2 linked regions of the Homo sapiens genome follow. The protein of the gene in region 1 interacts with the protein of each later gene in a pairwise test. Each region holds a gene or a part of one and is shown in the gene's direction. Other genes may lie near its edges. The genes, in order: ARL6IP5 and ARL6.

Region 1 (7,965 bases):
AAGCACTGAGATTGCAGGCGGGGGCTACTGTGCCTGGCCAAAAAAGTCTTTAAAACAAAATAAGTAGTAAATAGGTTTGCATCAATTTTTGTTTTTTTCTTTCTCTTTGCAAAGAAGCAGGAGGGCATCTTATCTGGTGATCTAGTTATGGAGGTATTTTCTTGAGGTAACTTAGATGTGGGGCAAAGTTTGACACAGACCAATAATTAAAAAAAAAAAAAAGTCTATTTTCTTCAGACATGTGTGCTGCCCAGACCAGGCACAAGCTCAGACAGCCTTGCTGCTTTTGATAGAATCCATTTTTCACTGTGAAGGCCAGGGGCCAGCCCTTTGACTAAATATAGCTCCGTCAGTATTGTGCCTTAGGCCACTAACTCAGGTAGTTTAGGGGTGTTGGCCCTCCTCATTTTCCTTTCAAATAAGAGTTGTTGGTTGTCAATGAAAATTTTGAAGTGAAAAAGTGAAAAGTAGCCATGAAGTTTTTAAAACTTATCCTTATTTTTAAAAACTTACAAAAGATACAGGCTAGTAGTAAAGGTTGATTTGAAAATTATGTGGATAAAATGTGAAATTTCCTTCATACTTCAGTAAAAGTTTGGTATATAACCCCTAACTGTTTTCTATGCAACTATAAGCACAGTCAGTAGTTTTTTCCACCAGTTGTTCTCTTTTCTTTCTTTATCATTTAATAATATAAATATTTATTGAGTGCTCTGTGTGTCAGGTACCTTGCAAAGTATTTTACCTGCATTATGTCATAGAACCCAATTTTAAAAAACTGTTACTTTTTTTTTATCATTAAACCTGAGGCTCAGAGAGGTTAAATGATTTACTCAAAGTCACAAACTTAGGCTTGTGCTCTTAACTACTGTTCTGTCTTACTATGAGTCACAAGGAAGAAACCAAACATCTTCAGAGTTAGGGAGCGTCCTTGATTCCAGAACACTTCTCATTCTAAAGAGAACTATCCTCTTTCGGTGATGCTAGTAGATGGGTAGGTCAGAGCAGTGCTGGCAGCTGTTCATCTGGATCCTCCACAGACTTCTCTCTAGTTTCTCAGAATATCTTGGTAGAGTATATGTGAAAATGTGACCTGGATAAAAGAGTGTTCAACAATGGTTCCATCCCCTGCTGGTGAGGAGAGCCTCAAGGGCATTGTAGGAGTGCTCTAGCCTCAGCTCTCCAATGTTGGAAACTGGCTTAGATGAGGATAGAGAGGGCCTCCTCTTCAAGATTTCAGGAAGGGTGAGGGAAGAACATAGCAAATACTATCTAGATCCAGAAACACTGGAAAAAACTGCCCATACCAAGACGGAGATTAAGAGGGATTAGGATAGAGATAAATCTGTGTTTAAACTTCTGATCAGAAGAGATTGAATTATTTAAAAGGAATAGCATGAATAACAGGCTAGGAAACTTGCGTTTTGCTGGAAATGCCTTTGGATCCTTTACATCAAGAAGGAAAAGTGTCTAAGATCGAAGTTGCCATAGCTTACCTTCTGCATCCTTGATGTGAGACGTTTTGGGATTAAGATATTCTTTTCACATCACACACAACAATAGAAGTCTCTACCTTGATCTTCAAAGTGAAAAACAAAGGCAACACCTAATGACACTTGCAATTTAAGTACTAAGCGTGTGATACATTCTAGTTGTGGATGAAAACTTCTTTGTGCTTAATGGAATGCCAAATGATTTGAGCTGGAGAACTCTGTTCAGTGTGTGAGCCATGGAACAGCAGCATCTTTCGCCTGAGAGCTTGTCAGAAGTGAAGCATCTCAGGCCCCATTTCAGACCTACTGGGTTAGAATCTACATTTTAACAAAAGTCTCAGATGATTCATAGGTACATTAAAATCTGAGAGGCACTGGATTGGTCTGGCTCAAAAGAAAATTTAAATAAATATACCTATATGCCCAGGTGTCACCTTCCGTGATTCAAAATGTATAGTTCTTGGCAGGGTCCAGGCATCTGTTGTTTTTTTCTTTTTCTCTAACTTCCTAAGTGATTGTGATTATACACCCCTAGGAGAAATACTGATCCTCTTGAACCCCGTAACTTCTGAAATGTAAAAGCTCGAGGTCACAGGCTAATTGGAACTAAAGCTGCTAATAATAGGAAGTGAAATATTTTTTCCATTAAGCCATATTGCAAATTTTCTAAAGCTCTTGATTAACCAAATTCAACTGCATCCCTGACTCTTACAATATTTGCAATGCTATTGCTGTCTTATTCTGAAAAGTTCTTTCCTGGATGGGTATAGTGGCTCACACCTGTAATCCCAACACTTCGGGAGGCAGAGATGGGAGGATTGCTCAAGGCCAGGAGTTTAAGACTAGCCTGGGCAACATAGTGAAACCCTGTCTAAAAAAAAAAAAAAAAAAAATTATTTTCTGCCATTAGAACTCATATTTTCTGGTATGGCCTCAGAATCACCAACCACACACAGAATTTGCAACATATAAAAATGCCTCTGCTGCTTCTCCAGCAAGAGAGCTGCATGTATTCTTATGTATATACATTTGTGCCTCCCCCTTTAGATAGAACCATGTAGCTGCTGAAGGAATGAGCCCATGATTTCTCAGCTGAAGTAACTCCTCACCATGTGGCCTGATCATTTGGCCTATGGAGATGTTGCAGGAGGGTGGAATTGACAGCTGCCACTTTATGCTTTCAGTTACTCAAGATGGTAAGGAGTTTCTAGAAGGCTGGTAATTATAAGTTTGAAAACAGCATTAATGTAATCTTTTCAAAATGAACGTGGCTTGGTGGCTCTGTAATATGTTCTAGGCCTGTGGCTCCCAGCATCTGGTATTATGAAATGTTCGTATTGTTTGTACCTTTAAATGCTGTAAAGATGAAGAACCAAGTTTCCAGTTGGTAGAGGAAAAAAAGCGTAAGGCAACCCTGGGAGGCTCTGGATCAGAATCTATTGAAATGATTGCAGATAGAATGAGTTGCAGTCTGTTTATACTAAAGCAAGTGGAAATGTTTTTGAGATTAGTCAGCTTCAACACCAGTTCTACAACATTACTCTTATTTGTGTTGCTTCATTCATTCAATTAACAAAGAGTATGAAGCACTTACCAACTTCTCAGACACTGCTAGGAGATAGTGAAGAATAGGACAGCTGTGATTCCTGCCTTCACGGAAAGGCAGCAAGACCACACTGAACACATGATAACTAATTTGTATACAAGTATAGCAAGTGTACAGAAATACACACCTACATAAACACATCCTTCTCAACCTGACTTACCTGATCTCCCCTGTACATTATTACTCCAAATTCCAAATCTCTCAGGTGTTGGGAATAGGGGAGGCATTGAGTATGTAGACAGGAAAAAGGTTTTTTTAAATTTTACTATCCTAACCCACAGCTCAGATCCTTCTATTCCATTGAACAAATACTGAGCACCTACCATGTGGTAGACACTGTCTAGGCCCTGAGGATACAGTCAGGAGTACAACTCCACCAGCCTTCCCAAATCCTCCCAGAATTCTCCTGCCCTTCGATGCCCATTTATTTGCATTTGAGGCTGGCACCTGTCTTCCTCTGATGGCTTATGTGTTTCTTCTGAATACAGAACTTTAAGAGGTCTGTCAACACACAGTAACATTTTAATCTCAAAATCTTTATCTAGGCTGGACATGATGGCTCACGCCTGTGATCCCAGCCCTTTGGGAGGCCGAGGCGGGTAGATCACCTAAGCTCAGGAGTTTAAGACCAGCCCGGGCAACATGGCGAAACCCCATCTCTACCAAAAATAGAAAAAATTAGCCTGGCGTGGTGGCATGCATCTGTGGTCCCAGCTACTTGGGAGGCTGAGGTGGGAGGATCTTTTGAGCGTGGGAGGCGGAGGTTGCAATGAGCCAAGAACGCACGCCACTGCACTACAGCCTGGGTAACAGAGTGAGACGCCGTGTAAAAAATAAATAAGTAAATATAAATCTTTAATAAGGATTGCTTTTCATTAAATAACCTCTGACAGTGTATGTGTGTATATGTGTGTGTATATACATACATATATATATATTTTGAGACAGGGTTTCACTCTATTGCCCAGGCTGGAGTATGGTGGCGCAGTCATGGCTCACTACAGCCTCTACCTCCCTGGGCTCAGGTGATCCTCCTGCCTCAGCATCTTAAGTAGCTGGGACTATAGGCATGTGCCACCAGCCTGGCTAATTGTTGTATTTTTTTTTGTAGAGAAGGGTTTTTGCCATGTTGCCCAGGCTGGTTTCGAACTCCTGGGCTCAAGCAATCCTCCTGCCTTGGTCTCCGAAAGTGCTGGGATGACAGGCGAGAGGTATGGCTGGCACACCTTTGATACTATTTATGTAACTTTGTTTATCTGAACTTCTCTCCCCTCTCCGTCCAGCTTTTTTTTTTTTTTTTTTTTCAATGTTGCCTGCTACTTTTGGCCTTTGGTTGGTAGTTTCTGTTTCCTTTCCCTAGGTAAGGATTTACAATGATTCTAGGTAAGTGTGCAAATAAATGAGTGTATTTTGGATTCCTGGCCCCCTGTCTTAGAAAGGAGAAGCTCTCCATCAGCTTAGGGACAGAGAGCTCTGTACAGGAAATCCAGTTCAAAAAGGTCAAGACCCATTCTTGACCTACCCACTTAATATCTAATTAAGCATCAATATTGGAAATTTTGTATTTTTTATTTTTTGGACAAATGAATTCTATCCTTATCACTCAGCTTCAGAAAACTTAACCCTTAATACCATCCTCTGTCTCTTGAAATGAGCGTGGCTTCCTGTTTCTGAGAATGCCTTCACCCTTAATACCATCCTCTGTCTCTTGAAATGAGCGTGGCTTCCTGTTTCTGAGAATGCCTTCAAGCCCTGTAATTTTAGGCAAAACCTTCAGGCTAACAACTTCAGGTTTGCAAGCATTCATCATTGATATATGATAGGATTTCCTGGCCTTCCTTCTCGTTATGCAATTTGCTAAAGGAGACACCTGGAAGGCAGAAAGCCCTGCTTCTTCTAATCTGCTTCATATCTCATTGGTGCAGCTTCTCCTTGTCTCAGAGGAAAAAGAATGCAGAAATTGGGGGTTAGTGAGGGGTAAATAGACAGGAAACTTGTGAGAAGGAAGTCTGTGTTACCAAGCTCGTTAGCATTTGTCCAGCCCCTGTCTTCTCTCCACAGCTCTGTAAGAATTTGCCATGTGACAGTTCTCAGTAGCTTTTGTTTGTTTTGTTTTGTTAAGACAGAGTCTCTCTGCATCGCCCAAGCTGGATGCCATGGCAGGATCTTGGCTCACTACAACCTCTGCCTCCCAGGTTCAAGCGATTCTCCTGCCTTAGCCTCCAAGTAGCTGGGATTACAGGCACGCACAACTATGCCTGGCTAATTTTTGTATTTTTAAGTGATTACAGGCACACACAATTATGCCTGGCTAATTTTTGTATTTTTAAGTAGAGACGGGGTTTCACCATGTTGGCCAGGCTGGTGTCGAACTCCTAGCCTCAAGTTATCCCCCCACCTCAGCCTCCCAAAGTGCTGGGATTACAGGTGTGAGCCACTGTACCCAGCCTTTTTTTTTTTTTTTTAATTTTCTAAAATCATTCAAGAAGAACAGTTTGTAAACAAATATCTTTCCACTTCTGTTCCCCAAAAAGTATTGGTTGTTAAGAGTAACCATGGGTTGCTAATTGTGAAAGCAGTGATGAGCATACATGAAGATTCATTATACATTATTCTCTCTACCTATGTATATGTTAGTTTTCCATAATGAAAAGTTAAAAAGGGTTTTATGAAGTCTAATCAGAGCTTTGTACACAACTATTATTTGAAGCTCCGTCACTGTGGGAAGCGTCAGATTTATGGTTTCTAATCCGAGTCCAACCTGTTGTTTATTAAAAACAAAAGAAAATCTGGAGGTTCCTAAGGCATGTCTTAGTATGAACACTTTTAACATGCCAACTGTTAAAAAGACAATGGTTGGTTTGGATGCGAGTGTTTAATTTGTGCCAAATTACACAGGATACAGTAAATATTTAGGGAATGGCAAGAATACAATAAATCCTCTAGGCCTTCCTAATTCAGTTGGTTAGGAAAATCTCACTATGACCTTTCTGTAACAAAAGAGACAGGCTCCTGTTCAGTTTTACCTACTGTACAGTCTCCTTTATTCCATGATCCTTAGGCCAAGGAGACACTGTTCTCATTTACTCAAGACGAATTTGTGTCCAAAGCCCACATTTATGCCTATAGTCAAAAATAGCTCTCCACTTTGGGAGGCTGAGGCAGGCAGATCACTTGAGGTCAGGAGTTCGAGACCAGCCTGGCCAACATGGTGAAACATCGTCTCTACTAAAAATGTAAAAATTAGCTGGGTGTGGTGGCGCATGCTTTAATCCCAGCTACTGGAGAGGCTGAGGCAGGAGAATTGTTTGAACCAGGGAGTCAGAGGTTGCAGCGAGCCAAGATTGTGTCACTGCACTTCAGCCTGCCGACAGAGGGAGATTCTGTCTCAAAAAAAAAAAAAAAAGAAAAGAAAAGAAAAAAATTAAAAATTAGCCAGGCAAGCTGGCACTCACCTGTAGTCTGTAGTTTCAGCTACTCAGAAGGCTGAGGAAGGTCACTTGAGTGTGGGAGAAAGAGGCTGCAGTGAGCTATGACCATGCCATCATACTCCAGCTTGAGTGACAGAGGAAGAACCTTTCTTGAGGAAAGAAAAGAAAAGGCATATGGAGCTGTGCTCTGGTCAGAGAGACTGAGGAAAGGCTGGCTGAGCTGAGACTTGAAGGAGGGTGGAGTGAGGCCTGTGTGCAAAGTATCCTCTCTGCCTGATTCACCTCACCCTGAGATGGCAAAAGGCAAGGTGAGTTCTGGGGTAGATAGAAACCCTGAGTGGATGGGGGTGCAATCAGGAGATGGTGTGACAAACCTGGCAGGTAGGCCAGCTGCTAGCCCTGAGAGTTCCCTCATGCTAATTACTAAGGCACTTCTTCCTCTCCTAGCAGTTACAGCCAAAGCCAAATTTTGGCCTTGGCTTGTGGAGTGTGTGACCTGGATTCCAGGCCCCACTTACCCCCTCAGCCAGGCACCAACTCCACACCTATATACAGTGGCCCTGGCTGCAGAGGCAGGCAGGGGCCAGACCCTGCGAAGCCTTGTAGAATGTTTAAAGAATTCTGTTTTTAGTTTAAGAACAATGAAAAGAAAATGGTTGGGTGGGTTCATATTTGCAGTGATCCCTCTGGCTGATTAAGGACCACAGAGAAACATCGCCAATTTAGAGAAGTCCACCGTGAGTATATTGTTCCCCACTTTTTCGGTGAGTCAGCCTTCCTCAGAAACCACACTTCAAAAATAGCTTTTTCGGCTAGAAAATTGGAACTCAGTGCAAAGCTGCCTGTACTCCTCAGGAAATATTTTGCTGCCTCTTTGGTGGTTCTTTTTGGCCTTGCAGCCTGACAGGAGTCACCAAATGTGGCCTTGAGTTGATCCGAGGATTTCTGTTATGGCAAACTTTTATTGCCAACTTTGCAATTGGTGGCCTTGGACAAATTTATTAACTTGTATATTCTTTAGCTTGCTTACGTGTAAAATGAGGTGGGTTAGCAAGATCCTTCCTAGCTCTAAAATTTTGTGAGATTTTTTTTTCCCCTTTCAGTAACTTGTGGTAAAACTATAGACATAGCTACTGAATCACGTTGGGAAGTTTAGGACCTGTATCCACACCCACTAATAGCCACCTTGTTTCAGAGAGAAATGAGAGTGCAGAGGGATTTTCCAGGATGATCCTTGGTTATAGTAGGTTACTTAGAGTGTGGGGGAAATCCTTAAAGCCGGTTAACATGACAGAATGGGTTCTACTGTGAGTTGCTGCCACAACTGGCACCCTTGTTTTCTTGTTTCTCTCCTGGATCCCTTTGGATATGTTTCTTCTCTGGGCCTCAGTTTAGTTATCTGTATAATTGGACTAGACTGATTCATCTTTGAAGA
Region 2 (7,965 bases), about 29 Mb from region 1:
CTGGATTAAACCAATTGTAGATCAAAAATATTTGGGGAGAAAAATGCCATAAAGTTCCAAAAAGCAAAACTTAAATTGCCGTGCACAAACTACTGTATTGAAAGCATATAAATGAGGTCATATGTAGGCATTGTATTACGTATTATAAGTAATCTAGGGTGATTTAAAGAATATGGAAGAATTTGCATATGTTATAAGCAAATACTAAGCCATTTTATATAAGAGACTTGAGCATCTGCAGATTTTGGTATTTGAAGGGGATCCTGGAACCAATCCCTCGCCAATTCGGAGGGATGACTATACTTCAGACTAATAGCTGTCAAGTTACTAGGACCCAAATGTGTTATACCTTCTGGAGATTTGCATATGGTAATAAAATAAATTCATTAGCTTCTAATATTGTTAGGACTTCATTTAAGAGCAATGTATTTCACTTTTAGAGTCTGAAACTTAAAAACACTATCTCTTAACTAAACTCTCTTTTGTCATTATGAACTGCTGCCTTGAAATGGTATGTGATATTTACCAGATAAGATTTAGATTTAGATTAACTCTTTCCTAATAATGTGAGACCAAACATTAAATGGTATATATTTGGGATATGAACCAGAGGAAATTTATTCAAATTTTTTTTTCAATGAGTCCTTCAATAAATTGAAGGCCTATTTAAATCGTAGGTCCAGAAGACTTCTGAGAGAGAGGGAAAAGAGAGTGCTTCAGATTCGAGGGTTAGTTTGGAAAAGGAAAAGTGGCATGTTTGTGGTATTCTGCATTAAATTCCTTGGGGAGATGCATTTTATGTGTTTCTTATTTGTTTGTGTGTTTAGGAAACCTGAGTTTTCAGTACAGGATTTTTTAAATTCCTCCTCCAATTAGTTGATAAATAATTCCTTTTAAAAATGTATTTAGCTACTTTAAAAATACTTTAATTTTAATTACAAAAATATATATAGAGAGAAAATAGTAGGAAAGTAAACTTTGTTTTTATTTGATTTTAACTCCTTTTTTCTTTGTACTGTTTTTGGATGAAATTTATGAATTCTAGAATAGAGTGGTTACATTGTAGATTGAATGGAGAATATGATTACTATTGAAAAATCAACAATAAAAGTAAATTTACTTTCCCTATTTTCGTACTTTTCTAACTGTGAAACAAAACAAGTACATTTTGATCTATTAGACTGAAAAAGGTTACAAAGATTAATAAAGTATGCTCTTGTCAAAGTGAGCCACTCCTGTGAGAATGTAATATCTTTTTCAGGGTAATTTATTGATATCTGTTAAAATGAAAAATGTTTATAAACTCCAGCAAGCATTTTTACTTTTAGAAAAGTATTCTATGACCAGGGCTTATGGGCAAAAAAATATACATAGAAGGTTGTATGTTAGCATTATTTATAACATTTTTATATCAATTATGTAAAAATGTTACTATAAATATTTATCTTTGCTATATATATAACCATAGTAGTAAAAAAAAAAAATCAAGGAAATTTACATTTGCTATAAATATGTACTTACTATGTATAGAAAGAAGAAAGTTCTTAGTGGATTATGCACCAAACCATTAGTAGCATTTATTTTTGGAATAGTAGGATTATAAGGGAAGTTTACTTTCTTTTATTTTTCTTTTCTTTTTTTTTTCACATCCTGTTTGGTGAAGAGAGACATTTACTTTCTCATCTATATGATGCCATAATGTTAAATATTATATAATTTTTACATACTATTTTTACAATATAAAAAGGTAATAGCATGCAAAAATATAAGGAGTACACATTTTTTAAATTTGGAAAATATAGAAGAGAATATTGAAAACATGTTTCCCATAAATCTCACTATTCATAAATTCACCATTGTCAATCTTTTTGGTATCTTTCTCCTCCTTTTGAAATATATAACATATACTTTATATAACTAAGGAAAAAGGAACCATCTAAATTATGTACCATGTATAATTTTGTATCTTGCTTTTTTCAGTTAACATGTGGTAAGGGTAAATCAGGAAAAACATGCAATGAATATAACTAACAGCTGCCTAATATTTTTTCACACAGCTTTGCCAAAATTTCTTTAACCATTTCTCTACTCTAGGACATGAAGGCTATTCTGTTTTTGAAAATTGTAAACAGTCCTTCAGTCAAAATCTTGTATAAATCTTAGCCCCAGTTCGTGATTCCTTAGAATGAATTTCAGAAATAAAATCACTGGCTCAAAGTGATTGAACGTTTTTATAGATCTTGATAGGTACTTTGATTGTTCTGGTTTCTATATGTACTGGTAATGTATGTCTGTGATAATCAGCATTATCCTTTTTTAATGATAGGAGAAAATGGTATATAAAAAGTTTTATTTTGTATATCATTTGATTATTAATCACATTGCAGTTTAAATACTTAATTTATGATTAAGTGATTCGCAAAAAAAAGTACAGATGTCCAATAAATATATGAAAAGATATTGAACCTCATTGGCAATTAATGAACTAGATCAAGATAATATGCTGTTAGAATGGCAATTATTGAAAAGAATGATGATAATGATAATAGCCAGTGCTGGCAAAGGAGTGAGAAAAGTACTGAGTCATGTAAATTGATATGGCATTTCTGGAGGACAGTTTGGAAATGTTTTTCTAAAACTTTAAATTATGTATGTAGTCTTAGAAATGTTACTCCTAACATTTCTAATAAATCTTAAAGCATCAGAACTTTTTTAAAAGAAAGGTATGTAGGAGGATATTTGCCTTAAAGTTTTTCATAATGATGAAAATTGGAAATAACCTAAAAGTCCAGCAACAAATGTTTGATACAGTATTTGATGACACATCCATGCAGTGCAATAGTTTAGAACCATTAAAAGAAGATAGTGCAGAGGAATAATCAATAATTTTTCAAGTGCCTATGTGATCCATGGGTGAATCCTTAACTAGTTCAATCACTGGCTATCAGCTTTTAAAAAATCAAATAGAATAAAATAAAAGCTATTTGTAAGTATTTTTTCAGAAGACTTTCACTTAAAATACATCTATATATACCTATGTGTCTACTGTATCTTAATACAAAATGTATTTCTCACTATGGTTTATGGTAAAAATAATTTATAAAAGTAGTAGTAAAACCATAGTAGTAAAAAAAAAAAAAATCAAGGAAATTTACATATGTATTGCAAAGGCAAGGTGTAATACAGGATTCCATTTTAAATACATATATAGTTTATTCATATGTAATATACACAAAGTGTAGCTTTATACCAAAATATTAATAATTATTGCATCGGTGTAATAGGGTTATGGTATTTTAACTCATTTTCTCATATTCTGATATTTTAATGAAAAAATTACTCATTTTTTAAAATTATGAAGTAGCAAGTCATTAAATTTACTTTATTATCCAAATGAAAAGGTATTTTACATGAAATATGACTAATGATTAATATATTTATCAGTCATATAAACTAATAAGAAACAACACCAAAAATTCTAATGATATATGGACATAGGACATAAGGAGATAATACTTAGGTTAGGAAATGCCCATGGATAATAAACATGGAAAAATTTATAAGTAAAGCTTTAATTTTTCTTTTTCTTTACATTACACAGAGAAGGCCAAGCTATTATTTTTGTCATTGATAGTAGTGATAGATTAAGAATGGTTGTGGCCAAAGAAGAACTCGATACTCTTCTGAATCATCCAGGTATGTGTGTGTCTTTCAGTCTGTATCTGTTCTTTGGGGTTCATTTATGTGTAATGTTTTGTTCTTTGGGTATTGCTTATACTATGTAATTATCTTTCATTTAAAATTTTTGAATTTAAAACATATATGTTATACAAAATTTATATTTTATGTACATCACCATATTTTGTAAATTTTGCATGCAATGTAAATGTAAAGCATTTTGCATTGTTTTTGGGGTGTCTAACATTTATTTCCTCAAAAATAAAAATTCCCTTTTTTCTGATTACATAAATTGTACCAAAGCAAAAAAAAAAAAAAAATCAGATGGAAAAATAAAATAAAGATCTGTGTATTTCAACACCCATTAAAATTATTTGTTACCATATTTTCATGCATTTCTCTATGTGTATCTGAGTTTGTGTGTGTTTAATTACAGCATTTCTTACATATTTATTCATATATATATATATATATATCTCCCAAAAATATCTGTAGGGTTGAGGACTGTGGGGACTATCATTGTTATTTACCAAAATGGAATCATATTCTTTACACTCTTCTGCATGTTTCTATTCTCAGTTAACACTTAATGATGGATATCCTTCCAAATCAAATTATATATAATTATGTAGTTATTCTTTTTAATGATGCCTAATATGGTTTACTATGAATGTACCACAGTTTATTTAATCATTCACCTGTTGATGTATACTTTCCTCCCGCCCAAGCCCCCACTACAAACAGTGCTCCAGTAAGTATTGTGGAACTCTGCATTTCTAGCCTTCCTCATGCCAAAAAAATTTAAATAGTGCTTGTGCTAGGACTTTCAGAAAAGGATGGTGGTTTAAGAGAACTGTGGATTTGTTAGAAATGAAATAGAAATAGTGTGGGGCTTTCTAATAAATGTTACTGCTTAACCACAATATCTTTGGTATTTTTAACAGATGACCTCAAGCTTACTGAAATTTTTGAAAAAAAATTATCCGCCCTGTACATTTTATTTGACTTTTTAATGTTAAAAACTTAGCAGTCTTGGCTGGGCGTGGTGGCTCAGGCCTGTAATCCCAGCACTTTGGGAGGGATTACAGGCGGGTGGATCACTTGAGGTCAGGAGTTCGAGACCAGCCTGGCCAACATGGTGAAACCCCATCTCTACTAAAAATACAGAAATTAGCCAGGCACGTGCACTTGTAATCCCATATGCTCAGGAGGCTGAAGCAGGAGAATTGCCTGAACCTGGAAGGTGGAGGTTGCAGTGAACTGAGATAGCACCACTGAGGGCAACGGAGGAGACTCTGTCTCAAAAAAAAAAACAAAAAACTTAGCAGTCTTGTATCTAGATTGATAATGCATTTTTGATTATGTCTTCCTTTCATATTAATCTTTCCAGTTTTTCTCTAAAAAGTGTTTCAGTGTTGAGCAGTAAAATGAAATAGTTCCTATAAAATATACTTCAAACAATGGGGATTTTGATTTCCTCAACTGAAGCCTTGTCTATGGATCTTAATGTACTACTTCCTTTATTTTATGGGATAGATTCCCAAGGGAGGGATTTCTCAGCTGAAGTGTATATGAACTTTTTAAAAAAATTGATGGCCATAAAAAATCTTTGAATAGCAAAATGTACTGTGAACAGATAAAGACAATGACAGGCAAGGGAAAATATTTGCAACTCATATCATAGCTACAGGGATATTTCTATACTACTTGTGTTTCTAAAAATCAGTAAGAATATAAAAGCTTAATAGAAAATGGGGAAAGGACATATCAGGTAAGTCAACAAAAACATAAATTTAAACATCTTTTGAATATATGGAAAGATTCTTGGCCTTTCTATTACCTATGATATGGAAAATATCAAGAAGTTTCATAGCAGTCTTTTGGCTAGGGGAGTGGAAACACTCATTCTTATACGTGGTTGTTGAAGTGTAAATTGATATAATTTTTAAGAGAAAGCAGTTTGGTAATCACTGTCTATCAAAAGAGAAATTTATGTCCTTTGACCCAACAATTCCACATCTTAAATTTATCCTAAGGACATACTGGCCGGTGTACAAAATTACCTATATACACATTTATTCATTACAGGATTGTTCATAGTTGTAAAGATTGGTAACAGGTATCTCAGTTGGGTTCTGGTTAAATAATAGTACATAGTACTAAAAGAAGAAATATTCCAGAACGGTTAAAATAATGAAGAAGCTGCTCTATATGTACTGATATGGGATCAGATCCAAGATATGTAAATAAATGAAAAGATAAAGGTATAAAGTAATGAGGTTGGCCTGCTATATGAAAATAATATATAATAATTATGTTTGCAAATACATAAAATATTTCTATGAAGATGCCAAGACACTGATGTTATGGGTTGCCTTTTCTACAGAGACCATTGTCCTAGGACAAAGTTAGGAAGGAGATTCTTTTACTGTATGCCATTTTGTATCTTCTGAATTTTGAACTATTTAAATGTATTGTCTATTCAAAAAAATGAAAAATGTTTCCAAAATCATGACAAGGTAAAAATATCTTTTAAAAATCTAGCTTGTTACTTATGATATTGTGACAAAAAACTTAAATAAGTTCCCAGTTTCTTTTCCTTCTACTTCTACTTGAAGTTTGCCTCCTTTCTGTTCACCATTAAAAAGGAAACAAAATATTTAATGCTTTTTTGTAGGTACTTCTCTGTAATGCTTATTGAGCTCCAGTCCCACCTCACCCATCTTTGGTTAAAGCTCCTAACCAGAGGGCAGATGGTCCTAGGAAGTATTTTTAAAATTTTGTTACTGCTCAAATACATGCCTAACAGTGTGACAGTATGTGTCTTTAAATGTTTCTGTGTGTGTGATATGAAAAAAGATAATTGAAAAAAAATTTCATGGGTTTCAGTACTAAAGATTTGCTGCAAAATGACCTAAAAAGCTGGAAGTGTGATGATAATCTTATTTTCTCTTTTAGATATTAAACACCGTCGAATTCCAATCTTATTCTTTGCAAATAAAATGGATCTTAGAGATGCAGTGACATCTGTAAAAGTGTCTCAGTTGCTGTGTTTAGAGAACATCAAAGATAAACCCTGGCATATTTGGTAAAGTTTTATATTTACTTTTCACTGTAGCTTTCTGAAAAATATACAAGCTTCAGAGTTGTTTCTTCTGATCTCATTTTTTAAAAATAAGTGATCAAACATGGTGGCATATAAGCTAAGGATTTTGTTTTGTAGAATTGTGGCATTGTAGGTTTTTACAAATATATTACTGTTAAAAACCTTTTTCAAATTTTTGGGGGGATAGGAAAATATAAACAACTCTTATAATGGAATAACTTAAAAGCTCACTTACTTACTGACTTCAGCTACACTGATTTCCTTCTGCACATGGAGTCAGCCAAGCACAGTCCCATCTAAGAGCATGTGCACTTGTATCCCCCTCCTTTGAATCATTTTCCAAAATAATTTTCCTGGCTTGCTAGAGTCACTATTACCATGTGACTGCTTTTTTTTTTGTTTATAGTCTGTCTGCCTATACAGGTGTGTTAGCTCCCTGACAGCTGGGGTTTTGTCAGTTTTCTTCACTTTAATAATCCCTACAATAGTCATAGTGCCTGGTATGTAATAGGTACACAATACATATTTGTTAAAATGAATAAATGGAAATGGAAATTTTAAGTTTACTTAGACATCCTAATAAGGTTGAACTCTTAAGTAATTAATGTTGAAATTGTTATGCATTGTTTGTTTGGAAAACAGTTTCTTATTTAACTCCATTGTGCCTTTCTACCAAAATATTCTAATAAGGATAAACAGAGATTATACATTAGATAGTATTTTAGTGCCTACGACTACCATCTTAAACTCCCTTCTACCCACCCACCTACCTCTCTCTGCTGTAAGAGGTCCTTTCCATGCCAGAGTTTCCCCCTTTTTATAAGAAGGTATCTGTGGGGAAGATTGGAAACAGAAGCAGAGAGATCCACTGCCACAAGAAGGGTGAACTAGAATATGAAGCAAGGAGGTCATAGAGTTCAGAAAACAACTTTAGGAACTAGTTTTGGCGCTGAAAGAGTAATAGTAAAGACCTTAGGAAAGCTCTTGACACTTTCCAGTATTCAGAGCCTCCAGCACCTCTTCCCAGGAGCTAAACCCTGCATATCCCAAGTAAAACCTTCCTTACTCTAGGATCAGAGGAAAAGTTAGTGTCTAATAAATGATTCTTGAGTTGGAATTTGGGTCCTGTGGTATTTGATAGGTAAAGAATGGTGGGATTTTGGATAAGGAAACGTCTTGAG

The links.
Region 2: the proteins of ARL6IP5 (region 1) and ARL6 interact in a two-hybrid assay, tested with the Homo sapiens proteins (one study listed by BioGRID).

Annotation. Positions count from the first base shown.
Region 1 is NC_000003.12:69,087,272-69,095,236, forward strand, and holds part of ARL6IP5 (PRA1 family protein 3), read left to right. Parts: intron 1-7,965. UniProt on the Homo sapiens protein: Regulates intracellular concentrations of taurine and glutamate. Negatively modulates SLC1A1/EAAC1 glutamate transport activity by decreasing its affinity for glutamate in a PKC activity-dependent manner.
Region 2 is NC_000003.12:97,781,354-97,789,318, forward strand, and holds part of ARL6 (ADP-ribosylation factor-like protein 6), read left to right. Parts: intron 1-3,601; coding exon 3,602-3,696; intron 3,697-6,636; coding exon 6,637-6,766; intron 6,767-7,965. UniProt on the Homo sapiens protein: Involved in membrane protein trafficking at the base of the ciliary organelle. Mediates recruitment onto plasma membrane of the BBSome complex which would constitute a coat complex required for sorting of specific membrane proteins to the primary cilia.